Homo sapiens: one gene and its partners. The protein of the gene in region 3 interacts with the protein of the main gene of each other region in a pairwise test. Each region holds a gene or a part of one and is shown on either strand. Other genes may lie near its edges. The genes, in order: CASP2, ACVR1B, RXRA, KIF1A, TMPRSS3, RPS6KA6 and NRBF2.

What was found.
Region 1: the proteins of RXRA (region 3) and CASP2 interact in a two-hybrid assay, tested with the Homo sapiens proteins (one large-scale study listed by BioGRID and IntAct).
Region 2: the proteins of RXRA (region 3) and ACVR1B interact in a two-hybrid assay, tested with the Homo sapiens proteins (one large-scale study listed by BioGRID and IntAct).
Region 4: the proteins of RXRA (region 3) and KIF1A interact in a two-hybrid assay, tested with the Homo sapiens proteins (one study listed by BioGRID).
Region 5: the proteins of RXRA (region 3) and TMPRSS3 interact in a two-hybrid assay, tested with the Homo sapiens proteins (one large-scale study listed by BioGRID and IntAct).
Region 6: the proteins of RXRA (region 3) and RPS6KA6 interact in a two-hybrid assay, tested with the Homo sapiens proteins (one large-scale study listed by BioGRID and IntAct).
Region 7: the proteins of RXRA (region 3) and NRBF2 interact in a two-hybrid assay, tested with the Homo sapiens proteins (one study listed by BioGRID).

Annotation. Positions count from the first base shown.
Region 1 is NC_000007.14:143,294,851-143,298,350, reverse strand, and holds part of CASP2 (caspase-2 isoform 1 preproprotein), read right to left. Parts: intron 1-3,500. UniProt on the Homo sapiens protein: Is a regulator of the cascade of caspases responsible for apoptosis execution. Might function by either activating some proteins required for cell death or inactivating proteins necessary for cell survival.
Region 2 is NC_000012.12:51,979,199-51,982,698, reverse strand, and holds part of ACVR1B (activin receptor type-1B isoform a precursor), read right to left. Parts: intron 1,731-3,500; coding exon 1,500-1,730; intron 14-1,499; coding exon of another isoform or gene 1-13. UniProt on the Homo sapiens protein: Transmembrane serine/threonine kinase activin type-1 receptor forming an activin receptor complex with activin receptor type-2 (ACVR2A or ACVR2B).
Region 3 is NC_000009.12:134,430,955-134,434,454, reverse strand, and holds part of RXRA (retinoic acid receptor RXR-alpha), read right to left. Parts: intron 2,551-3,500; coding exon 2,459-2,550; intron 354-2,458; coding exon 248-353; intron 1-247. UniProt on the Homo sapiens protein: Receptor for retinoic acid that acts as a transcription factor.
Region 4 is NC_000002.12:240,813,720-240,817,219, forward strand, and holds part of KIF1A (kinesin-like protein KIF1A), read right to left. Parts: intron 1-3,500.
Region 5 is NC_000021.9:42,386,053-42,389,552, forward strand, and holds part of TMPRSS3 (transmembrane protease serine 3), read right to left. Parts: intron 3,098-3,500; exon of another isoform or gene 2,994-3,097; coding exon 2,877-2,993; intron 2,475-2,876; coding exon 2,351-2,474; intron 1-2,350. UniProt on the Homo sapiens protein: Probable serine protease that plays a role in hearing. Acts as a permissive factor for cochlear hair cell survival and activation at the onset of hearing and is required for saccular hair cell survival. Activates ENaC (in vitro).
Region 6 is NC_000023.11:84,118,700-84,122,199, forward strand, and holds part of RPS6KA6 (ribosomal protein S6 kinase alpha-6), read right to left. Parts: intron 1,329-3,500; coding exon 1,186-1,328; intron 1-1,185. UniProt on the Homo sapiens protein: Constitutively active serine/threonine-protein kinase that exhibits growth-factor-independent kinase activity and that may participate in p53/TP53-dependent cell growth arrest signaling and play an inhibitory role during embryogenesis.
Region 7 is NC_000010.11:63,143,328-63,146,827, reverse strand, and holds part of NRBF2 (nuclear receptor-binding factor 2), read right to left. Parts: intron 620-3,500; coding exon 535-619; intron 1-534. UniProt on the Homo sapiens protein: May modulate transcriptional activation by target nuclear receptors. Can act as transcriptional activator (in vitro). Involved in starvation-induced autophagy probably by its association with PI3K complex I (PI3KC3-C1).

The DNA of each region.
Region 1 (3,500 bases), on a different chromosome or scaffold from region 3:
AGATGGGCAGAAAGAAAACAAGTTCATTTTATTATAAACTTGAATAAAATGTAATGAAAATAAGTAAGTTATCTGGGTGGAAGAGTTAAAACACACATATATTTAATCACACACACTGCCAAAATAAAAAGCACACTTCTATAATATAACATATTGCAGTAGTTCTCAGAGTGGCCCCTAAAGCAGCAACAGCAGCATCACCCAGGAACTTGGAAGAAACGTGAAATCTTGGGCTCCAGCAAAATGTGTTTTAACAAGCCCTCCAGGACACTGTGATATGTTAAAGTTTGAGAGCTACTAATTGATCTGTTCGGAATACTTCTGTTTGTAGATAATTGAGATGCAATTACATAAAATATTTGAAAGTCTGCAATATAACTAGAAATAAAGAGACTGGTGTTGTTGAAAAGTATCTGTATTTTCTAAGTAGAAGCAAACCATAATAATAGAAATCTTAAGGTAATGACAGATAATCAAAAAATTCTTTCAAGAATATATAATTTCAAGAGAATACATAACTGTGAATGTTCCTCTGGAGCTGATGCTAATAGAATTTAACATTTAATAGTTAAAGAAGTTAATTTTGCTCAAAGAAGAAAACAAAGGCCGGGCGCGGTGGCTCACGCCTGTAATCCCAGCACTTCGGGAGGCCGAGGCGGGTGGATCACCTGAGGTCAGGAGTTTGAGACCAGCCTGACCAATGTGATGAAACCCTGTCTCTACTAAAAATACAAAAATTAGCCGGGCGTGGTGGCATGCGCCTGTAATCCCAGCTACTCAGGAGGCTGAGACAGGAGAATTGCTTGAACCTGGGAGGCAGAGGTTGCAATGAGCCCAGATCGCGCCATTGCACTCTAGCCTGGGCAACAAAAGTGAAACTCCATCTCAAAATAAAAAAAAAGAAAACAAAAATTATATACCTGGGCACCGAATCACGAGCATTTTGAATTTAGTGAGATTAGGTCAGTAAATAGAAAACAATGTCCAAAAAAAGAATACACGCACTTTGTAACCAAACTTAGTAAGACTAAACCATTCAATAAATGGGGATTAGACATTTGGAGGAATTTTTCTACAAGTAGCATAGCTTAAAATAGGATCTGCAGATTTGTTTTTGATAAAATTACAGTACTTCTATAAATAGCAGGGTTCTTAACTCCTAAGTGTATTTTTGGCTAGGGGTTGGGGGACATGTGAAGAGAGTAACTTGTGAACCCTCTGAAATTATATGCTAAATTATATGGGCAGCTGCATTTTCCAGGGATAACCCATAGCTTGTCCTTACATTTTCAAAGCAGTTTGTGACCCAAATGCAAGCTAAAAAAACAATACCACATGGTAAAAGGAAATTTCCACTTTGAAGAGTACGTTTCCTAACATAGGGTAAATCATAATTCTAGAACTAGTAACCTCATGAAGTAGATGCAATAAAAACTTAATAACAAAGAGAAAAGTGAAAACATCTGGGCAGTGAGAATACCCATGTTCACTGCAGCACTATCAGGGGAAGAGGAGTCTCTAAGACTAATTATACTATTTCCTGTTTTTAAATGGAATTCCTCTCTTAAGTAAGAAAGATTTGATAGGGAAAGAAAAAAGGATCTTTTTTTTTTTTTTGGTTCTGTTTCTTTGCTTGCCAAATAGCTATATGATAAACGAGTTGACTCTCTAGGGAGATCCCACCAGGAAGAGAGCATTCTGTGCAGATGCCCAGTGTACCAAATTATGACACCCATTGCAACTACCTGGTTTATAACACACACATTTCTTGTCCACATACTGTTCTCCCTGCCTAGGGTGGCTTCACCACTCCTCTCTGCTTCAGTAACTTCTATCCTTCAAGGCCAGCTTAAGTTCTGCCTCCTCCACTTATCCTTCTGATCATATCTACCTAGGCGCTTCTTCTTCTTAGCTATGACAGAAGATTTTTTCTCTAATCTTGTTTGGTCGTTAGGAATATAAGAGGACACACTTCCTTTTATGCTGATGTCAAAACTCCCTCATCTGATCTTTAAAATCTGTGGCAGCTCACATAGTCCCCCATTATAAGGTGCTTGAAGTTCAACTCTACTGCAATTCCAGTTACAGAGCAATTCAACCAAAGAATTAGAATCCAATAGGTCACTGAATATGCATCAGGCTTACCATAAATGGAAATGCTATTTATGAAGTGAGCTCATAAACTCACCAAATCTGACAGTCTCTGAGAAAACAGCAGTATATATAGTTGACTTAGTGACTCAGTATTTTATCTTTAACTATTAGACATGTAAGATCCTTTATCAGCTGCATACAACTTGAAAAACCATGACATAATAGATTTCTAGTAAAAGACATGGCTAGACCAAAACCTCTAAGAAAACACACACACTGCACATTTTGTTAAGTGACCTTCTGTAGGAATTATGGCTGGTACCCTGCCCTTTGCCCCTTTATGCCCAGCAGACTTCTCAGGAAAGCATATAAACTACCTGAATACTTGATGACTGAAGCAGCTGTTGCTGCCATGGCTTTGAAGCAAGGGTGGATTTAACTACATTGCATATGCTACAAGGGGGAAGCTGGCAAAAATAGCATGTAAAGGACAACACCCAGGTACCTGTGGATGAAACTGGCCTTGCCAAAAATATAGTAAATACATAATTACTCTCACAGAAGGAGGGCAGCTAAGAAAGAGAAATGAAGACTACAGACAATGCTGAATGGAAAACAAAGATCCTCTATCCCAACAGATCAAAGTGAATCTCCTAGCAATTTTAATTTCACCACTGACAACCTCAAAGCAAGTTGAAGAAAGTTCTACTATTCTGGAATCAAAATAAAGAGTGAATATGAATCTACAAATAGGCCATTATTGATTGCAAAATAGAAACCCTAAAGGTCACAAAGTCAGTTGTGCAGTACAGTAACTGAGGTTAATGACGAACAGCCCATAATGAAAATGTTTACAATTTCTAGAAATCTGGTCCACAAACAATCTACCCTATGACTTGTGATTACACAAATGTTAAGAATACTTTCCCAGCCAGGTGCCGTAGCTCATGCCTATAATCCCAGCACTTTGGGAGGCCGAGGGGGACGGATCACCTGAGGTCAGGAGTTTGAGACCAGCCTGGCCAACATGGCAAAACCCCGTCTCTACTAAAAATACAACAATAAGCCAGGTATGGTTGCATGCGCCTGCAGTTCCAGCTACTCAGGAAGCTGAGGCAGGAGAATCGCTTGAACCTGGTAGGCAGAGGTTGCAGTGAGCCGAGATCGTGCCATTGCACTCCAGCCTGGGTGACAGAGCTAAACTCTGTCTTTAAAAAAAAAAAAAAAAGTGAGACACCAACTGTGGACTATTATTACTTTATGAAACCACAACCTGAGATGTCAACACTAAAATGGCTGGCCGGCCCTAATTCTTTCTTACTAGAATGCAAGGTGAGAGGCAGAACAGAGTGAGTAAAAATGTAAGTAGAATAAACCAACTTTTAAGACATATCCCAGCAGGCACA
Region 2 (3,500 bases), on a different chromosome or scaffold from region 3:
AATGAGCAGTCTGCTGTTGTTTCAGGAATGAAAAACAAATAGCATCTTCTGTAGGCTTTGTAGACACTAACTTCTAAATTGCACCATGCCACAGGAGCAAGTCATGTCACAACTGCTAGAGAGACCCTTCCACAATGTGAACCAGCCACTCACAGCATCCTCTCTGTGCTCCGGGTGCCACTACCTGTCCACGTGTCTGTCCCCTTCTTCCTGGGAGCTCTGTGAGGGGAGGGACTGTGTCTTGCTCTTATGTGTGATGGTCCAAGCAGCCAGCAGAGGTCTGGCCCACAGCAGTCAATAAATGTTATAGAATTAATGAATGAAATTTTAATTACTACCCACTATCTTCAGAATGGAATACAATCCTCTCAAAAAGGCCCCTCATAATCTGGCCTCTGCCTCCCTCTCCACCCACAGCCATCCAAGTTACTTGCTGGGCCCCAAACCTCACCTTTGCACATGTCTGCAGTGCTCTTCCCTGCAAGGAAGATTTTTCTTCCTGACCAGTTCTTGCCACCTTTGTCTCAACTGGGCTCAGGTGCGAGTCAGCCCCAATTTGTGCTCAACAGAACAACTCGTGTTTACCTCCTCTAATCACCCTTACTCGTCATCCTTTGCTAGTCAATGAGGTCCTCAAACATAGGGAGGTGCCTGGCACATAAGAGATTCAAAAACTAAAGCAATAAAAGGGAGAGGAAGAAGGAAAGAATCCTCAGGGACAGGACTGACCAAGAGCAGAGTCCGAAGGCGACACTTCGTGGACTACAGGCTTTTCTGTCGTTATCCTCCTTGCCAGGGTTGAGGCCGCAATTCCTCATCCTAGGGATTTTTTTTTTCTTTTTTTTTTTTTGAGACGGAGTCTCGCTCTGTCGCCCAGGCTGGAGTGCAGTGGCGCGACCTCAGCTCACTGCAACCTCCAGCTCACTGCAACCTCCGCCTCCTGGGTTCAAGCAATTCTCCTGCCTCAGCCTCCTGAATAGCTGGGATTACAGGTAGGTGTCACCGTGGCCAGCTCATTTTTGTATTTTTAGTAGAGATGGGGTTTTGCCATGTTGGCCAGGCTGGTCACAAACTCCTGACCTCAAGTGATCTGCCTGCCTCGGCCTCCCAAAGTGCTGGCATTACATGCGTGAGCCACCGCGCCCAGCCCATCCTAGTGATTTTCAAAATAAGCTTACGGGACCCCCTGCAGGAACTACAATGGAGGTGGGTTTGGGGGAGTGGAGAAAGAGAAATTGAGCAGGTAGGGTGAGGGGGTGTATCTTGTTTATCTGAGTAAGAACTGCTTGTTTATTTGCTTGATAACCTGGATTTTTGTATAACCTTTTCATGGAATAAAAGGCTCCACACTTTAAGGAAAGCATGGAAACCTTGACCTTACTCAAGTTTTCTTTCTACGGGTTACAATGATGAAGGCAAACAGAGCTGTGCACCCCATAGCTATGCACTTTCTCTAGCATCCTCTATCTGGGAATGCTGTATCCAAGCCCAGCCCTTACCTTTATTGTCAGCAGCAATAAATCCAAGGATGTTTTCATGGCGCAGCATGACCGTCTGGTATATCTCTGCTTCCCTGAACCAAGACCGTTCTTCACGAGAAGAGAATATTTTCACAGCCACATCACCACCCCTCCAGCGGCCCCGCCATACTTCCCCAAACCGACCCTTGCCAATAATCTCTTGTAAAACGATGGTTCGGGCCACTGTGCGCTGGACAAAGAGGGGTAACCCTGTGAACCAAAGAATAGGAAGAAACCTGACATTGCAAATTTGACAAATTTTCCAACTCCCACACTAATTGGCACAACGGAAACACCCTTAACATGGTGTCTTCATCCTACGCTGTCCATTAACCATGGAGAGCTGCTGCTGCCCATACACATTTCTAGGTAATCTACCAGAGGGCTGAGCCAGGCGGAGAGATGGGGAAAGAGTGAACACAAACAGGAAACGTGTATGATTAGCTACTCCTTATCTAGGCAATTTCTCCTCTCAGTAAGCACGGATGATAGATTTGAATGTAAATGTTTGACCAGATTTACCAACTCTTCAGCCAGCCACCTGTGGGCCGATCCACCCACATCTGCTTTATTTTGGTGGAGGAAGGAAAGAGGGCAGAGAACATGAAAGTGTGGGCTCATGTGCTGGGGGCCACCTTCTGGCTGTTCTGCTTATTAGCCACTAGAGGGCAGTGCTGTGCGGCCCATGGGTTCCCATCTCCAAAGAGAGCAATGCTCTGCTCACAAGCGAACTCCAGATGTAGAATGGAGGACCATCTATGTTTAGTCTAAGATTAACTTTACTGTCTTTATAAAACTCAACATTGCTTCATTTGACTCATTCAATGTATCTCTATATATCCAATCACCCTTACCATCACAAGTGACTCTTAACTGTCTTACTCCCACCCCCAATCAAATAATTAATACATTATTAATCCCTAGGTCTGGTAGATGGGAACTACCATTTACTGCATGCTTACTATGTATTAGGCTCCATGCTAAGGGCTTTACATAAATTATCTCACTTCCCCAAACCACCTGGAAGGTAAGGCGCTGTTATCATCCCCATTTTATAAACAAGAAAACTAAGGCTCAAAGAGGAGGTTATGTAATATTCAAATTCATACAAGCAGTAAGTGGCAAAGCAGGGCTTAAAATCTAGGACTGTCTGACTCTATAATCTATGCTTTTAATGACAACAGTATAGAACCACCAAAATGTTTCTCAAATTAGCCCCCGCCTCTCCATCTCCGTCCGCCTGTCCTACTTTTGGACCTTCTCTAAAAGACTTCCAACAGGTCTTTTGCCTCCCATCTCAGCCTGCTCTTGCCCTGTGCACCCACACACACCCCGCCTCACCCCACCCTTCCCAACAGAAGGCTGGTAGTGAATGAATTCATCCTCCACACCACTGCCAGAATTCCTTCCAAAGGAAAAAATGAACATTCATTTCCCACATGGAAACTTTCAGTAGAAGCCCCTTACCTAGAAGATAAAGGTCAGCCCTCAAGATCCTGTACACCTGGGGCAGCCTGACGTCCCCCTGCTTCCCCAGCACAAGCACATCATGCTGGTCTCCTCATCATAAAAGTTCTTTAAACATACAGTGGACCTTCATGCCTTTGTCTTTTTACTCAAGGTATTTTCATTGGCCTGGAATGTTCTTTGCCCTCTCGCCTCTCTTAAAAATTCCAACTCATTCTTCAAGACTCCTTTTTTTTTTTTTTTTTGAGATGGTGTCTCGCTCTGTCACCCAGGCTGGAATGCAATGGTATGATTTCGGCTCACTGCAACCTCCACCTCCTAGGTTCATGTGATTCTCCTGCCTCAGCCTTCTGAGTAGCTGGGATTACAGGTGCCCGCCACCACACCCAGATAATTTTTGTATTTTTAGTAGAGATGGGGGTTTCATCATGTTGGTCAGGCTGGTCTCGAACTCCTGACCTGAGGTGATCTACCCGCCTCGGCCTCCCAAAGTGCTGGGATTACAGGTGTGAG
Region 3 (3,500 bases):
AAGCACCTACTATGCGCCAGGTGCAAGGTAATCCTTCCAGTGGGGATACGACGTGGGCCTGTGGGGTGTGCCCGCCACAGCCCACTGGCCTGGAGGACCTCCTGCTGCCTGCTCAGGACCTGCTGGCATGGGCTGGGCCTGGGGAGGGTGCCACCTTCTCATTCACATAAAATGGCCTTGCAGGGGGTGGGGGCTCTGGAGACAAGAGCCTGGGTCTGGGGTGTGTGTGGGACGGGGCGGGACCCACCTTCCCGGCTGCTCTGGGTACTTGTGCTTGCAGTAGGCCTCCAAGGACGCATAGACCTTCTCCCTCAGCGCCTCCACCTCGGCCGGGTTCGAGAGCCCCTTGGAGTCTGAAAGGAAGAAGCCACAGGTCAGAACCCTCAGCTGGGGCGTGTCTCGGGCACCTGCCCCCAGGACCCAGGCTTGTGTGGGGTCTCCCAGGCTGCCCCACCATGGGCAGAGCAGGTGGTGGAGGAATGCCGCTGGACATGCCTCCGCCCGCTCCCCCAGAGCCTGGTGGCAGGGGGACGACTGTGGAACCCACGGCCAGGCCAGGCTGCTCTGGGTCCAGGCTCAGCTCTGCCACTTGCCAGCCACGTGACCTTGGGTCAACTATTTGACCTCCAGAGACTCGGTTTCCCCATCGATAAAGTGTCAGGGATCTGCTGCCTTCCTTCCAGCCGCCTTGGGAACTGGGAGAGACAATGGATGCTGCTGCTGCCCTTGGGTCCCAGCCCCATAACATGGATGGGAGATAGCGCTGCTGCCCCCAGGAGTACCCAGACCCTGCGGAAACCCATCCTCGGTGTGCTTGCGGAGTCCTGAGCTCAGGACCCGGGCTCAAGAGCCTAGAGTGGACAGAGAGGCTAAGATTGCAGCCACCAAAACCTCCAAGGCCCAGGGACCCCCTGTGAATGCCACCTTGGCCCCCAAGGCCCAGGGACCCCCTGTGAATGCCACCTTGGCCTGTGTCCTGGGCTCCTTGGCAACGTACCTGGCTCCCCCAGCTGCCTCCGCTCCAGCCAGTCTCCTCGCCCTCCCTGCATGCCTGTGCCCTGGTCTCTTCGCTTTCCCTGCAAGCCTGTGCCTGGACCCTGCTTGTGCCAGACAATCTCACCCTCCCTGCAAGCCGGTGCCCAGGTCCTGCTGGTGCCCCAGCTCTAGCAACCAGACCACACAGGACCTGAATGGGGATTCCTCGGGCCGGGCCGGGCCGTGGCATGACTCAGCCTCCGAGCTGGCAGGATTACGGCCCGGATGCACAGCCTGGGTGATAAAATGACCCTGGAAACAAGCTCTCCCCACAAGAAGATGCCCATCTCCATCCCGGCCCGGTCCCTCAGAGCCAGGTCTGACAAAGGGCAAGGTCAGAAGGTCAGGGCCAGGAGCCGAGAGGGCTCCACTCCCTCCACCATAGCCCAAGTGAGCTCCCCACAGCAGCCCCAAACCTCTCCCTCCACACCCCAGCCACCTGCCCCTATCACGCAATGAGCTGAGTTTCCAAACACAGAAACCCATAGCTCCCTCCCGGCTGGAACCCCTCAGGACTTGGCTCCCTGTGGCCCCAAGAAAAAACCCAAACTTAGCAAGACTTTCAAGGCCCTGCCTGGGCTGCCTCCACCAGCCCACCCCACCTCCGTGCCTCTCACTCCCCTGGCCCCTAACTTGCAGCTCCCGGAGGAAGTGGCCCGCACCCTCGACCAACCGTGCTCCTGCCCTCACGTGCCGGGGGTGCCTGCTGGTGGGCGTGACCCTCTAAACCCCAAGCTCTAGGCAGGCAAGCCCTATCCAGCAGCTTGAAGGGGCCCTCCCATGCCAGCAGGGCACCGAGCAAACAGGCACGTGTCAGCACTTGTTGGGCGAAGGAGTAGCACCTAGGAGGCTTTTCAAGCCGAGAACCCAGAGGCTGGAGAAGGGCCGCACTGTCGGCCAGGAGGCCTGTGCCCAGCCCCAGCCCCACAGCCCCAAGCCCTGCTCTCCTCAACCACAGGGGCCCAGCCCCAGAAACACCCTGGACCCGAGGCTTGGGGATGAGGTTGGTCCCCTCTGGAACACCCGGCAGGCCTGACCCATCCCCAGCCTGCAGGGCTTGGGACTCCTGAACTTCAGCACCGGAAGTTCACAACCACAGCTGGCCACTTTCGGAGTCTGGATTCCGACGCACAGTGATGAACACTATGAACCGCGGAGCCCAGACGGCACCACCAAGCCCCTCATGACAACTGCCTTGCTGGGTCCCCCTGTGCCCAGGGACCATGCCCCCTTGGCTGGCCCTCAAGGTGAGCAGAAGGCAGCATGGCCACACTTTCACTGGGAGGGGGGCACACTGAGCTCAAGGAGGGTGGGAGTTGGCCCCACATGTAGCCAGAGGCAAGAAGTACAGCCAGGAGGAGGCCCAGGCACCTCTGCCCCACCAGAGAACGGGGCCAGAAGCCTCAAGGCAGGAAGGCCATACCAGGGTTAAAGAGGACGATGGCGCGCAGGCAGCCCAGCTCCGTCTTGTCCATCTGCATGTCCCGCATCTTGGACACAAGCTCCGTCAGCACCCTGCAGAGGAGGAGGGCAGACACCCCATCCCAGTTAGGTCGCAGCCCTCACCAGGGCCACACCCCAGATACCCAAGGCCTCTGGAGAGCCCGGCGTGGCCCGAGGGCCGCTGAGATGGGCCAAGCCAAGGCAAGGACTCCCAGACACCCCGAGAGGGAGTGGGCTGGAACCCAGGCCCAGGTGCCGCCCCTGCCAGGCCTGCCTGGCCCTGCCCGGAGGGTGGGCTCCTCTCCTCTCCCTCTAGGGTCTGCCTGCGGGGCTTTATTCTGGGAACCGAGGTGCTAAGGAGGGGCCTCGTGACAGCTAAACTGAGGTGAGCCGCAGCTGCACAGAGGGCACAGAGTCCACCCCTCCCGAACCCAGTGAGACACACCACTGTCCCTCCTCAGCTGTGGACCCAGCACCACCTGAGGCAAAGCCCCTTCCCATGCCACAGCCCCAGCCGCTCCCTTCAGTCCAGGAAGATACCTTTCCCCAGGGCCTGGTGTCCCTGGGTGGGGGCTGCCAGAGGGAGGCATGTCTACTTCTTGTCACCAGAGAAAAAAAATCCACCAGCCTCAACACGGGGAAAGCCCGCCAGCTCCCTCCATGGAGACGCTGGGGGCGTTCTTGGATTCAGACTCAGCTGCCCCAGCCCTGCAGCTGGATTCTGAATCACACCAGCCTCTGCAGTGTACTGGGCCCCCTAGCCTCAGCAGCCTGCCCACCAACCCCAAAGCTCAACTGCTGTGTCCAGGAAGTAAGGGTGGGCCACAGCGGGGGAAAGGAGGTGACCAGGTGGGGATGGTTGCCTAAGGAGCCTGGGCTCTCCCCTGTGGGCCAAGGGCGGCCCTGAGGGTCTGCAGAATGGGGAGTGCCCTGGTTGATTCCTGGAAGAAGATCTGAAGGAGGCTGGAGAACAGGGTGGGACAGAACAGGAGCTGGGAGGGACCCCCGATGTCTGCTCTGAG
Region 4 (3,500 bases), on a different chromosome or scaffold from region 3:
AGCAGCCCTGCCGCTCCCGCCAATGGCCTCCCTAACACATGATGTGCCAACTAATGCCTTCCTCGGGCGTGAGAACAGAGTGTGAAAGGGAAGGACCAGAGCTGCCAGCAGAAAACAGGCCCTGCGGGAAGGACAGGCAAAGCATGGAACAGACGCGAAACAACCGAGCACAACCTCTGTCCACGCACCCGGGAGATTCAAGAAGATGCTCATTTTCAAAACAAGGGCAGAATGCTATGAGACAGAACATTTAGAAACGTGAAGATTTTAGAGATGAAAAATGTAAGAGATGAAGTACAAGATTCCAAAAACCCTAGAAAAGGCAGTCAAAGGACTTTAGAATATAAACAAGGAGACAGAATATACAAGAGAAAAGCAACCAAACAGACCAACCCATGAATTCAGGGTAAAAGAAAAAATGAAAAGGAGGAAATTACGAACAAATAGAAGTAGAGACCCTGACTTCAGTGTGAAGGGCCCACCGAGTGCCAATAAATGCGAACCCCATCCTTACACCCGTCGACATGAAGTTAGAACACCAAGGAAAAGACAGGATCCTAAAAGCTTCCAGGGAGAAAAGACGAGTTGCCAACAAAGCCTGCTCATAAGTGACCTGATGCAGAAAGCCATGGTGACCCTATCCTTAGAGTTCCCAGGAAAGCTACTTAGGAACAGAAGTACCCCAGACACTACCACCCAGAGCAAGGACACAGCAAAAACACTCTCACACACCAAAGACTCATGCACCCTTTCAAGGAAGTCACACAAGGATGTGCTCCAGCAAAACAAGACAGGAAACCAAGAAACAAGCAGCTCTAGGGTCCAAGAAACAGAAACTCCAATCCAGGGGACATGGCAAGCAGCTGCCAGAGGCCACTTCTGGAGGTGCGATAAAAGGGAAAAAACTCATTCAAGAAAATAAAAAGGCTGGGCGCGGTGGCTCATACCTAAAATCCCAGCACTTTGTGGGGCCGAGGCAGGAGGATTGCTTAAGCCCAGGAATTCAAGACTTGCCTGGGCAACATGGCAAAACCCCGTCTACAAAAAATTAGCCAGGTGTGGTGATACATGCCCATAGTCCCAGCTATTCAGGAGGCTGAGATAGGAGGATCACTTGAACCCAGGAGGTTGAGGCTGTGGTGAGCTGTGACTGCACCACTGCACTCCAACCTGGGTGACAGAGTGAGACCCTGTCTCTAAAATGAAATAAAATAAAGATAACCAAGAGCTGGAGAAAATAAAACACCAACCAAGAACATCTTGCCTAAGTACAGAGCTGACGCAAAGGGTGTGGGGCCGTAAGCGTGCTCCTCTGGTCTGCGCCTAGCCCACTGCAGCCACTACTTGTCCTAGAGCTGCAGCCCTCCCAGGCCCCAAGGACCTGCACCCATGGTGGGGCCCTGGCCCCAGAAGCAGGAGAGTGGGGACCAGATGACACCAAGCAACTGAGTACAGTCCCACCCCAGCCCCACAGCAGCTCCTCAGGAGCCACACCGACCCATGACCTTGAGCATTGACTGCCCAGCCCTGTCCTGCACCATCCTGGCTTGAGCTGATGACAGATGGAGAAGGAAACTGAGGCCCACCCTCAGGTGGGCCTTTCTGGCAGGGCTGAGGTGGGGGCAGGAACCCCTTGAGGGCATTCCTGGCACTACCAGCCTCAGGGAAGGGGCCCTGCAGGAGCAGTCCGGGGCCATGCCTGTCCCTAGAGCTGCATTTCAGGAGCCCCACGGGAGGCCCAGAGGGAAGGGGGTGCCTGTCATTCCTAAGCCAGGCTCAGGAATCCATAGGTTCTGAACAAGAGACACTGAGACCCAAAGACACCCCAACCCCTGAGAGGGTGGCCAAAGCTCAACCTGGACTCTACCAGAAAATGCGGTACCTGGGCTAGAACAACCGGCTCAGCCATGGAAGAGCACTGACTGAGTCTTCACTCTGTGTGAGGCACCGTGCTGGCCCCCGTGGGGGTGGGAGAAGTGGGGGGTAATGGGGGTGGAGGAGAAAGTGGAGGGATGAGCAGAAAGCACTAAAGGAGCTACCATCCTCGGAGTCCCAGGTCCTCACTTTACAAGCCACATGGGCTTCTCAGGAGCCTCAGTCTCCATACCTGGAAAATGGGAACACCACCACCTGGCTCAGTGGGGTCCGAGCCAAGCGGTGCTGTTCTCATTGTTCAGGTGTGGAGTGGCATGGGATAAAGGGAAGCACATGAGGTGCACAGTGCAGGCTATGACCAGTGTTCTCTGTCTTCTTCCCCACCCCTGGAAACCTATGGTTGTGGAGGGGGTGCCAATCTGAGGGGTAGGGGTGACAGCAGGCATCATGGCAGAGGCAGCATTTGAGGGGGACCTAAAACCTAATGTGGAGGTTGAGTAGAAAGTATTGAGAAGAAACCCAGGCAAGAACAAAGACAGGGACAAGGGATGCAGAGTGTGTGTGTGTGTGTGTGTCTATCTGCATGCATGCATGTGTGTATGCATGCGTGCATAAGCATGTGTGTATGTGTGTTTGTATGTGAATGTATGTGTGGGTATGTGAGTGTGCATGAGCATGCATGTGTGTGTATGAGTGTCTGTGTGTGTGAATGTATGCATGGGTGGGTGTGCGTGCATGTGTGTGTCAGTGTGTGTGCAATGTGTGTGTATGTGTATATGCATGTGGATCTGTGTGTGTTCGAGTGGATGCATGTGACTATGAGTGTGTGTGGCCGGGTGACTGCTCTGGACCCCTCCAGGGCACTGTGGGGAGGGGTGAGGAATAAGCACGAGGATGCCTGGAGAGCCAGGCACTGGCCTGCCCTCCCTATACCCCAAGGCGTCCTGAAATCTGGCAGGGATGGCAAGCAGGAGGGACCCCCAAAGGTCATCTGAATCCCCAGGCTCTGTGGCAGCCAGGGCTGGGCCTGCCCAGACCACAAGGCCTGGGATTAGGAGATTAAATCCAGGGTGAGGAGGCTTTAGAGAGGCAGCAGCCCCTCCTACTCATTCCGGCAACCCCAGCCTCTGAGTCCCACATCCAAGTCCCATATCCACACATCCGGATCAATCTCTACAATGCACTAGGCCTGCAGGAGGCCAAAGCTGGCAGGATGGGCTGGCAAGGAGCAGGAGAGGTCAGGAGGCTCAGTCTCCACCTGCTGCTGACCTTGACTGTGCCCTCTGCCCCACAGCACCCCCAACTGCAGCACGTGGGCCAAGCCCAGCCAGCTGTTCCCTGGGTTCTTGAGGCCCTGGGGGTGGGGGCACTGGGGTGGCGAGAGGCCAGCCAGGCTGAGGGTGGGGATCCCAGTGGGGCTCAGGAGCTAAAGAGCAAGCTGGCTTCGTCAGGTGGGGCCACTGTGCCCCTGCCTCTGCCCAGGTGCCATGCCAAAGGACTGGGATGCAAAGCTCTGGGATCCCAAACCCTCCTGTAGCAGGGATGGGCCTATGGCCGGAGGCCACCACCTAAGGGGCAGAAGCCGGCAAGGACGCAGGCCCAACGCTGCCTGGCTGTGTCCCTGG
Region 5 (3,500 bases), on a different chromosome or scaffold from region 3:
GCGATTCCACGAACACCAGAGCCCAGCTCATTTTTACAGTGCCAGGACACAGGTCTTCTGGAGAACAGTGGTGAAAGTGATGCAACTTTTTAAAGAAGAATCACATGTTTGGAGAGTCACAAGATGGAAGATGGTGAATAAACAGCCATGTTCTCCTTCCCTTGTGAAATGAACAAAACACAGTACAGTAGGCTTGTTTTCATAGTGAACACACCAGCTTATCAACAGGATTTCTTCAGCTTACTGTAAATGCTATGGGGGTGTGTATGTAGAATACAAAGTTCAGTCAACTTTGAGTTTTGAGGAAAATGTAATCAAGGCGGCGGGCACGACCTTCGCAGCCCTTCCAGGGATTGCTCAATGCACGGATTCCGCTGGCACTGGCATGAAAGAGCCGATGGTTGCTGGGATGGCTTGGCCCCAGTGCAGGTGGCGGGGCTTGTGCCAGGCAAGGGGACCCCAGTGCTGCAACTGGAGCCCCATGAACTGTCCAAGTCTCAAAATGGTAACAATGACAGCCACAACCACACACTCGCCCAGTGTGCTCTTGCCCACCAAGCCCTTCCACACTCACAGCGTCAGCGGAACTTCAGTTCCCCTCCAAGTACGTGCTATTATCATCCCTCTTTTCTAAGAAAGGAAACTGAGGCATGAACTGTGTGTGGAACTTGCCTGAGTCTACACTGGGATTTGAACCCAAGCAATCTAGCTTGACCGTCCTTTGGTTATTTATTTATTTATTTATTTATTTATTTTTGAATCACAGATCTCTGACATAGGATGTAGTAGAGCAGAGAAGATTAAAGAAGGATTTTAAGGAGAATTTAAGAAAATAGAACAAAATGCAGAAATAAATCTTAGAAACTGAAGCAATGGATAGAGAACAAAAGAACAAGCCTATAGAGAAGAAAGTAGGCAATATTGGGGTGAGAGATGGGGGACATCGCATTCCCTGGATTTCCTTGTAGAGGGAGCATATTAAGGATGAGAAGGAATATTTTACCAAACGGGCTGGGGTGGAAGAGAGACGGGAAGGCTACCCCCACCATGAGTGGCCTCTACCTGATGCCTGGGACAGCTGGGGCTCCTGACTTGGGTCTGCTGGGTGGGGAAGGAGAGGGATTGAGCTGAGTTTTTCTGCATAACAGAGCAGAGAGGCCTTGGGGTTTGCTCAGACAGAGCGGTGGTCCTCCAGGACAGAGGAGGAGGGCAGAGAGAAGAGAAAAGGAGGCCCCCCAACACCCCCCACCCAATGAGTCAGAGGAAGAGGCTCAGCGGGGAAGAGAAATGCCCAATGGGGAAGCTCTCAGCTGTGTGCAGTGTGTGTGTGTGTGTGTGTGTGTGTACCTCTTCCTCCTTGTCTCTAAGGAGTAATACATCATTCCTGAAGACGTTAGTGTGGATGATTTTTGCTCTTCTCATTGAACTTGAATTGCAGCTCATTTCTGAATCTCAGTTGGTGTGGAGGGAGAGGGAGGCAGACCTCAGGGCTGGAGGCTGGAGGGCATTTTGGCTTCCACCAGCTTTGGGGAAAGACAGCCGAGAATATGATTCATGGAATTTGAAAACTGAGACTCTGTGGAGGACTCAGGGCAGTGTGGCTTTAACGACCCCATCTACTTGAGTGCAAAGCAGAATGCAGCCTGCCTGCTTTGAGTGCTGAGACTTGAGAGCAAAGGGGAGTAAGGAGGCTGCTAGGGGAACCCGTGGAAGTACAGCGGCCGCAGGAAGTCAGAAGGAAGGGGCCAGGGGAGAGAAGGAGGCCCATGCCTAGGCCAAAACTGTGTCACTCCAATGCAAAAAATCATGTAGGCAACACAAACACTAAAAAGTGAATAGTCAACTGTTATAGTTCTTTGTTCTACATGTTGCTAAACAAGTGTTTTGGATGATTGTGTCTTCACTAAATTTCTGACTTTCAACAATTGGTTCTGTGGGGTTCTTGGGGAAGCGTGCATGGACATTGATGTGACCGCCAGGACCAAGCAGGAAAGTGTCCAGGAAGCTACTCTAGGAGCTGCAAGCTGAGGAGCTGGAGGGTTTTTTGGTTTTGTTTTTGTTTTCTACTTTGAAACTTTTTATTGCATGTTCGTATCTCCGATCCTGGCCTGGCCCTGGGAACCCCCAAACATGCCACTTCCCATGTGCCTTGAGCAAGTCACTTAGCCTGTCTGGCCTTGGTTTGCTTGCCTGTGAAGTGAGGATGATATCGGGCATCCTAAGGTGGATGTGAGGATGTAATCTGAGAGCGTTAAAGCACCCAATAGTGCCCAACTAAATGGTAGTTGTCTTTCTTTATTGTTATCCTCTCTGTGTTTTGCCCATGGGTTGGAAATGCTCTTTAACTTACCTTGGGAAACCCAGTTGGGCACAGGCAACATTTGCGTAGTGACCCTTCCAGTCATCGGAGCACATGGTCTTCCACGAAGCAGCTGTGAACACCTGGAGCACGGCATTCTGACCACCCACCCGGACTGGCCGATGTGCAGAAAGAAAGGCTTATTAGTGGCCAGTGGAACCCTGAGACCATAGGCAGGGGTTTCTCCACAGCCAGCTCAAACCCCTCCTCTGCCAAATCTGACCCACTTCTTGTCCACGGCAGCCTCCCCATCACAGAGCAGTGACTCTGGATCCCTGAGACTTCTCGCTGGTCTCATCTTATTGCTTATGTGGTCTCCCCAAGAGAGCCAGAGCTCCATGGAAGGCCCTCCCTGACCCCCCAGCCCAACATGTCTTTGGGCAAACGCCAGTTCAATCCCAGCTGAAGACATGACCTAAAAATGGCAATGACTTGGACCCATTTTACAGATGGGAAGGGTCAGGGTTGGCTTCTGCTGCTTCCTTCTGTTTCCCCAGGGGAAGAGCCATGACCTTACCACAGCGGTACTCGTCCTCCCCGTCTTTGCAATCCGAGACTCCGTCACATCGAGCTATCAGCTCGATACACTTAAAGGATGAGCGACATCTGTACTTCCCTGAGCAGTCGAAGTGGACTGGGAAAAGGGAGGAAGGCAGGAATTAACCAACAGCTCTTTCAGAGTGCAACACTAACAACTGTCCCCCTGCCACACAGTGCGGAGCTGGCCCGTGAATAATGAAACCTGTATTGAAATTGCGTCCCTGTCAGCAGCCTGTTTCCTGCAGCCCAGTTTCTGTTTTGAATTCCAAGGGGTGGGGCTGCTGTGCCCCACTTTATCTCGCTATGTGGCCTGGCCCAGGAACCACAGTGCAAGGTGAATTTAGACTCTGGAGGTCTCAAGGTCAAGAGAGAAACTGCATGGCGGGGGGCCGACCTGCTGAGCCAGCCGAGCAAGGAGTCCTGACTGAGAACTGCTCGGCCTTCCTGGTTTCTCTTACCGAAGGCAGAAAGTGAACGAAGTGTGGACCACACAGTGGGGCAGGTGGCGAATTGAACTGACCTGTGATTCAGGTATTTGAAAGAAAAATTGTTCCCTATTAGAGACCCTCCATCCAAATGACCCACTTTCTCAAAAGCCACA
Region 6 (3,500 bases), on a different chromosome or scaffold from region 3:
TCTAATTTGCTACCAAGGTTAACAACTGCTTACTTTGAAATCTCTATAATCTTACAATTGTCTTTAAAGATCTCTTTTGTCTTCCTATTTCTAGTTTCTTCCATTACAATCCACTTACAAGGCTAATCCTCCTAAAATACAATTTTCTCTAATTTCCAGCCTGTTTAAGAATCTAAAAGTTTCCTCCTACCCAGAGAATCATGTATAAATGCTTATAGGTTTATAGCTTCACTTCCTCCACCTTTGCCCTCTTTCTCCACTTCTCTAGTCAAACTGGTTCTCCAAGTCTTTGCTAATATGATCACAATAACTCTCCTTCTTGACACACAACTATTTAAATTTTATCCATCCTTCAGGGCTTAATTTAAGTTCCAACTCTTTCAGTTTGCCTACATCAGCTTACATTAAATCTTCCCTGAACTCCTAAGGTACTTCTTGAGAGTTTATTTAGCTACTCCAATTGAAAAAGACCAAATATTTTACTTAGAATCAGTTCCTACCCCACAGGCCTCCTAATATGTCAGGCTTATAAGAGACACTTAACATGCTGATGTGTCATTTGATGTGCTACTCAGTGATAAATGGACAAAATGGATCAGACCTCCAAAGCAAATTATATCTAATTCAACAGCTATTTATCTATCATCCTACTGACTACTGCAAATTCTATGCTTAATCTCATACCAAATTAGTCAGTCTGTATTAAGCATCTACTGAAATGCTCACTATGCTTGATACTATGGGAGATGAAAAGTAGTATAAGACATGATTCCTCTGCTCAACAGGTTTATAACCTTTCTAGGGAATACATGGAACAATCTGACAATAAGACACTATATGGTAAGGTGCTAAGTTCTGTAACATTCAATTAAAATACCATGTAACTGATAAACTCATCATTCTGAAATATAGAATCTGACAGACCTTTTCATAAGTATCAAATATGAATAGTTTATAATAACAATGCTGTCATTTACCTTTTTACTAGCAACTTTAAAATAAATCAGAACACCAAAATCTTAATTTTTATTGTGTAACAGCTAGCCAATCACAAGGTTTTTGGTGTTAATTATAAATTATCAGAACCCCTTTCTGACCTGCTAAATCCCAAAATTTGAATTAAAATAAAATTATAAGTAATATCAATCACAGGTTGGCATAATTAAAACAAATAATGCTACTTACCATAAGAACACCATATGACCACCAATCAGCACTCTGGGAATGGCCTCTCCTATTTACTACTTCAGGAGCCATATACTCTACTGTACCACAAAATGAGTAAGCCTTCTTTTCTTGATCTACTGACTCCTTGCTGAGTCCAAAATCTATAATAACAGTATTACCAAAAAATGTGTCTGAAAAACTTCAGAAAATAGAAAACGTCAAAAGAAACAAAATAATGTATTAAACATTACAATTATTTATGGATGGCCTACAGTTACTCTTAAGAAAGTTCCTGTGAGATCAATAAGAGAAAGCAGCCTGTATTTCATAACAATACTCTTTAAGGTCATTTAAAGATCCTTCCATGAAATCTCATCCTCAAAATACATGCTTTCAGGTCTACACTAGAATATAGTGCAAAAAATGTGAGGGAACAACAATTAAATCAAAGCTGCCGTATTGATCTAAGTTTTAAAATAGACTAAGACAAAACAGAAATAGTAACTTATACTTTTTAAAATATTAAAAAAGCAAATTTTGCTTTGGCTTTGGTGAGCTTCCATTTTTGTTCAAAGCCTTCAAGGAGCTAAAGATGTCAATAATAAAAATCAATCTTATTTCTTGGTATTACTAATGAACAACTGGAAGACGAAATTTAAAAAGTACCATTTATAATACCACCAAAAATATCAAACATGAAATCTACAGGTATAAATATACATCTACAGCTATAAAATATATATGCAAGAATTATATGCTGAAAACTGGAAACACTGATGAAAGAAATCAAAGTAGACCTAAATAAATGGGAAGTTATACCATGTTCATGAATTGGACGATTTAATGTTGTTAAGGTATCAATTCTCCCCAAACTGATATACCAATTCAATGAAACTTCAATAAAATCCCAGCAAAATTTCTTTTGTAGAAATCAATAAGCTGATTCTACAATTTGTATAAAAAAGTCAAGAAAATAAAATAGTCCAAACAATTTTGAAAAGGAAGAAAACAGTTGGACTTACACTACACCTGACTTCAACACTTACTATAAAGCTACGGTAATCAAGATAGTGGGGTACCGGAAAAAGGTTGGACATATATATCAATGGAACAGAAGAGTGTACAATGATAGACTGACATATACAGTTAATTCTGCTATAATGCTTCTTTTGAAAATGCAAATTTGTTCTAATGCAATTGATATCTTAGCAAACAATCTAAGTATAACGTGAATTTCACACTGGCTTATCAGTGATTTTGTCTGCAGGAAGCGTTACATGAGCACAGAAAACTGAATCAGCTGAGCTTAGGAAAGTAGAAATACATAAAATGCACATATGCACACACCTCAAACATCTACCAGCTAATTCACTGTATTTGTTATGAGCCACTCCTGTCCACCTCTAGCGTTAAAATTTTCCTTCCAATTCCAGATAATCTAACTTCCACTACATCATTATAACTTACAAACTGTAACTTTTCTGACACCCACTTCCACAAGCAAACTTCGGGTCTTTTTCAAGGTAAGGAACTGTATTTATTGCAGTCTTTATGTATTTCTTAATCATTTAGAACATACAGAACAATGCTACCCTTTTTACTTTCTTTTCTTTTGTGTATCACTGATCAAACATTTTAAAGTTATGCCCCTTGCCTCCTTTTCCCCATAAGTTCTGTGGTTTATATACTATGGATTTATGCATACTGCAGTGATTTAGATCACATATGTCACACTGTAACAGAACTGGCTCTATATTGTCACTTAATTTCTTGCAAAGGTGCAAAAGCAATTCCATGGAGAAAAAGCAGTCTTTTCAACAAATGGTACCAGAACAAGTAGGATAGAGATATAGAAAAATTCATCCTCATACCATAAATAATTAACTCAAAATGGATCGTAAACCATGTAAAACCTAAAACTATAAAATTTACAAAAAAGAAAATAGAAATTCTTTGTGATCTTGGGTTAGACAAGGATTTCTTAGATACATCAAAAGTATAATCCATAAAAGAAAAATAATGACAAACTGGACATCATCAAAATAAACAAAACTGTTCTTCAGAAAATGGTATTAAGAAAATGAAAAAGAAGCTACAGGAGGAAACGATGGAGCAAGATGGCAAAATAGAAGCCTATACCATTTGTAGCTTCTGCAGGAACACCAAAGTTTAACAACTCTCTGCACACAGAAAAGCACCATCACAAGAATCAAAAATCGGGTGAGTAATCACAGTACTTAGTTTTAACTTCATATTGCTGAAAGAGGCACTGAAGAGGGTAGAAGAGACAGTCATGAATCACTGATGACACCCCTTCCCCATGCCCCAGCAGC
Region 7 (3,500 bases), on a different chromosome or scaffold from region 3:
CATCAGCATGTTACTACAGGCATGCATGTAGAGATGAGATATTCAGAAGGGAAGCTAAAAAAAAGACCACAGGAAAAATCTCCCACATTTTAGGTAACAAAAGTCTTATAGTAAGTTTTGCATTATCAGCATGTTAGAAAACAGAAGCTCAGTGAAAATGAATTGGTTGGAATTGAATTGAATTACTATTTTTAGAACCTGAAATGGCCAACTATTTGAAACCCAAACTCCTTTTTATAATAACTAAGATAAAATGGCAGACTTGTTACAATCAGCTCCTGTTTTTAGGGATCTTTGGGCTCAGAGAGCTGTATCCAGGAACTGTTTACCACATTTATGCCATCTTCATGATTTAGAAAGAAGATTGGATTAGCAGGAGCTGGGAAATCCAACACACTTACTTGAAAAATAATCAAAGCTGATATTCTGGTGGGTCAGCAGTATCAGTCTTGCATATGAAAAGCAACACACATTATTACTATTGTGACTTTCTGCTCTTCAGTTTTACACTGAGTACTTAATAAGAATACTCACCTGCAGCCTTTTTGTGACAAGAAATAGCCTCTTCGTATTTGCCTGCAGCTAATAAACGGTCTGCTCGTCTGCTCTGTTGATGAGCCTAGAAGACAAACATCCCTAAGTTCCTCTGGATCATAAAATAAAACATGATTTCTTTCAAAAAGCAACTACCTTTTAAGAAGATAAATAATACTGTTTTGTTGCCACATATCAAATCACTATTACAGCTCTATCTGTAGCTGGGGAAATGTAATGGGTAGAGCCTAGAACTGCAGCATCTGAAAGGAACTGGCAACTTCTTTCACTTCTACCATAAGCCCTCTCAAGGTTAACACCAGGCACTTAACTCCTTCAGTGACTCACATTCTTCCACTCTTTGGAGATAAACCAAGAGTTACAATCATAGATTGTTATTCAAAATGTCTATTTTCTTGATTTTTAACAAGCTCCTTTCAAAACAAGAGCTATTTTGTAGATACTTTCACTAATCTGTATAGTCTAAAAACTATAATCAGGAAATCACTCATCATGTAGTAAAATCCAAGCTTCTCTTCTATCATCTCATTCTTTCAACATTAAAGTTACTATTTGTTTTTAAAATAAAAAATTTGGACATTGCAGTTGATGAATTCATGATACCAACATCTAATATTACAAAGATTGTTTTAAAGATATCTCATCAAAAGAACAAAGTCAAAAAAATCAGAAGTTCTAACAGCAAATAATGTAATTGAAGGAAAACTTATTAAATAAGCAGTCACTGGCCTCCTTACACTTTAATAATTTCAAAAGAGCTTTAAGTCCAGGCACAGTGGCTCATGGCTGTAATCCCAGCACTTTGGGAGGCTGAGGCAGGCGGATCATCTGAGGTCAGGAGTTCAAGACCAGCCTGGCCAACATGGTGAAACCCCATCTCTACTAGAAATACAAAAATTAGCTGGGCGCAGTGGCTCACGCCTGTAATCCCAACACTTTGGGAGGCCGAGGCGGGCAGATCATGAGGTCAGGAGATCGAGACCATCCTGGCTAACAGGGTGAAACACCGTCTCTGCGGGCGCCTGTAATCCCAGCTACTCAGGAGGCTGAGGCAGGAGAACTGCTTGAACCTGGGAGGCAGAGGTTGCAATGAGGCAAGATCATGCCATTGCTCTCCAGCCTGGGTGAAAACAGTGAAACTCCATCTCAAAAAAAAAAAAAAAAAAAAAAAGCTTTAATATACATTATTTCAGCTGCTTTAACTACGACTTTGTTAATGTGTTTTCCTCTCTTACATAAGGAGGCCCAAAAGACTGATGGGGAGGTCGTGTAACTTACATAAGATTATACATTTAACTAGCAAGGAGAAAGGCAGAGATAATCAGCTAAAGTTTTCTACCTCATGTAACGATTTTCCTCAGTAACAAACACACACGATTTAGCAAAGCTTCACAGCTTCACAAAAAAGCAAAAAGCATTGTACACCCATATTCATAACAGCATTATTCACAACAGCCAAAAGGTGAAAGCAATCCAGATGTCCATCAACAGATAGATGGATAAATGCAGTATACACACACAATGGAAAGGTACTGTCTTTAAAAGTAAGGTAATTCTGGCCGGGCGCGGTGGCTCACGCCTGTAATCCTAGCACTTTTGGAGGCCGAGGCAGGCAAATCACAAGGTCAGGAGATCGAGACCATCTTGGCTAACACGGTGAAACCCCGTCTCTACTAAAAATACAAAAAAAATTAGCCAGGCGTGGTGGGGGGCACCTGTTGTCCCAGCTACTCAGGAGGCTGAGGCAGGAGAATAGCGTGAACCCGGAAGGCAGAGCTTGCAGTGAGCCGAGATCGCGCCACTCCACTCCAGCCTGGGTGACAGAGCGAGACTGTGTCTCAAAAAAAAAAAAAAAGGGAAGATAATTCTGACACATACTACAACATGGATGAACTGTGAGGACATTAGACTGAATAAAATAAGCCAGTCATAAAAGGACAAATACTATACAAATCGACTTATTGGGTATCTAAAGTAGTCAAATTCTTAAAAACAGGAAAGTTGAATGGTGGAACAACTCATCATTGAACAGGGGAGGGGGAAATGGGGAGTAGGTATTCAAACGGCATAGTTTCAGTTTTGCAAGATGAAAAAATTCTGGACATTTGTTGCACAACCATGCGAATATACTTAACACTACTAAACTGTACACTTAAAAATAATTAAGAAGGTAAACTTCACGTGTTTTTTACATCACTTAAAAAAGGTAAAAAGTGGCTGGGTGCTGTGGCTCATGCCTATAATCCCAGCACTTTAGGAGGCCAAAGCAGGCAGATCACTCGAGCTCAAGAGTTTGAGACAAGCCTGGGCAATATGGTGAAAACCCATCTCTACAAAAAATACAAAAATTAGCCGGGTGTGGCGCTCGCACCTGTAGTAGTAGTCCCAGCTACTGAGGAGGCTGAGGTAGGACAATCACTTGAGCCTGGGTAATGGAGGCTGCAGTGACCTGTGATCGCACCACTGCACTCCAGTCCGGGCAACAGAGTGAGATCTTGTCTCAAAAAAAAAAAAAAAAAAAAATCGGGCATGGTGGCTCATGCCTGTGATCCCAACACTTGCGGAGGCCAAGGCGGGTGGATCATCTGAGGTCAGGAGTTTGAGACCAGTCTGGCTAACATGGTGAAACCCCGTCTCTACAAAAATTAGCCCAGCAGGATGGTGGGTGCCTGTAATCCCAGCTACTCGGGAGGCTGAAGCAAGAGAATCGCCGCTTCAACCCGGGAGGCAGAGGTTGCAGTGAGCCGAGATCGCACCATTACACTTCAGCCTGGGCAACACAGTGAGACTCGGTCCCAAAAAAAAAACAAATCTGTTCTGTCAGTTAGCTGAAAAATGATTTGTCTTGGATGCTTTTTAAAGACATGTCCCTTTGATGCTGCATAAAAGTACTTCACAGAATCACGTTTGCAACTGAGATTATAAATATTCTGGGCATGTTTACA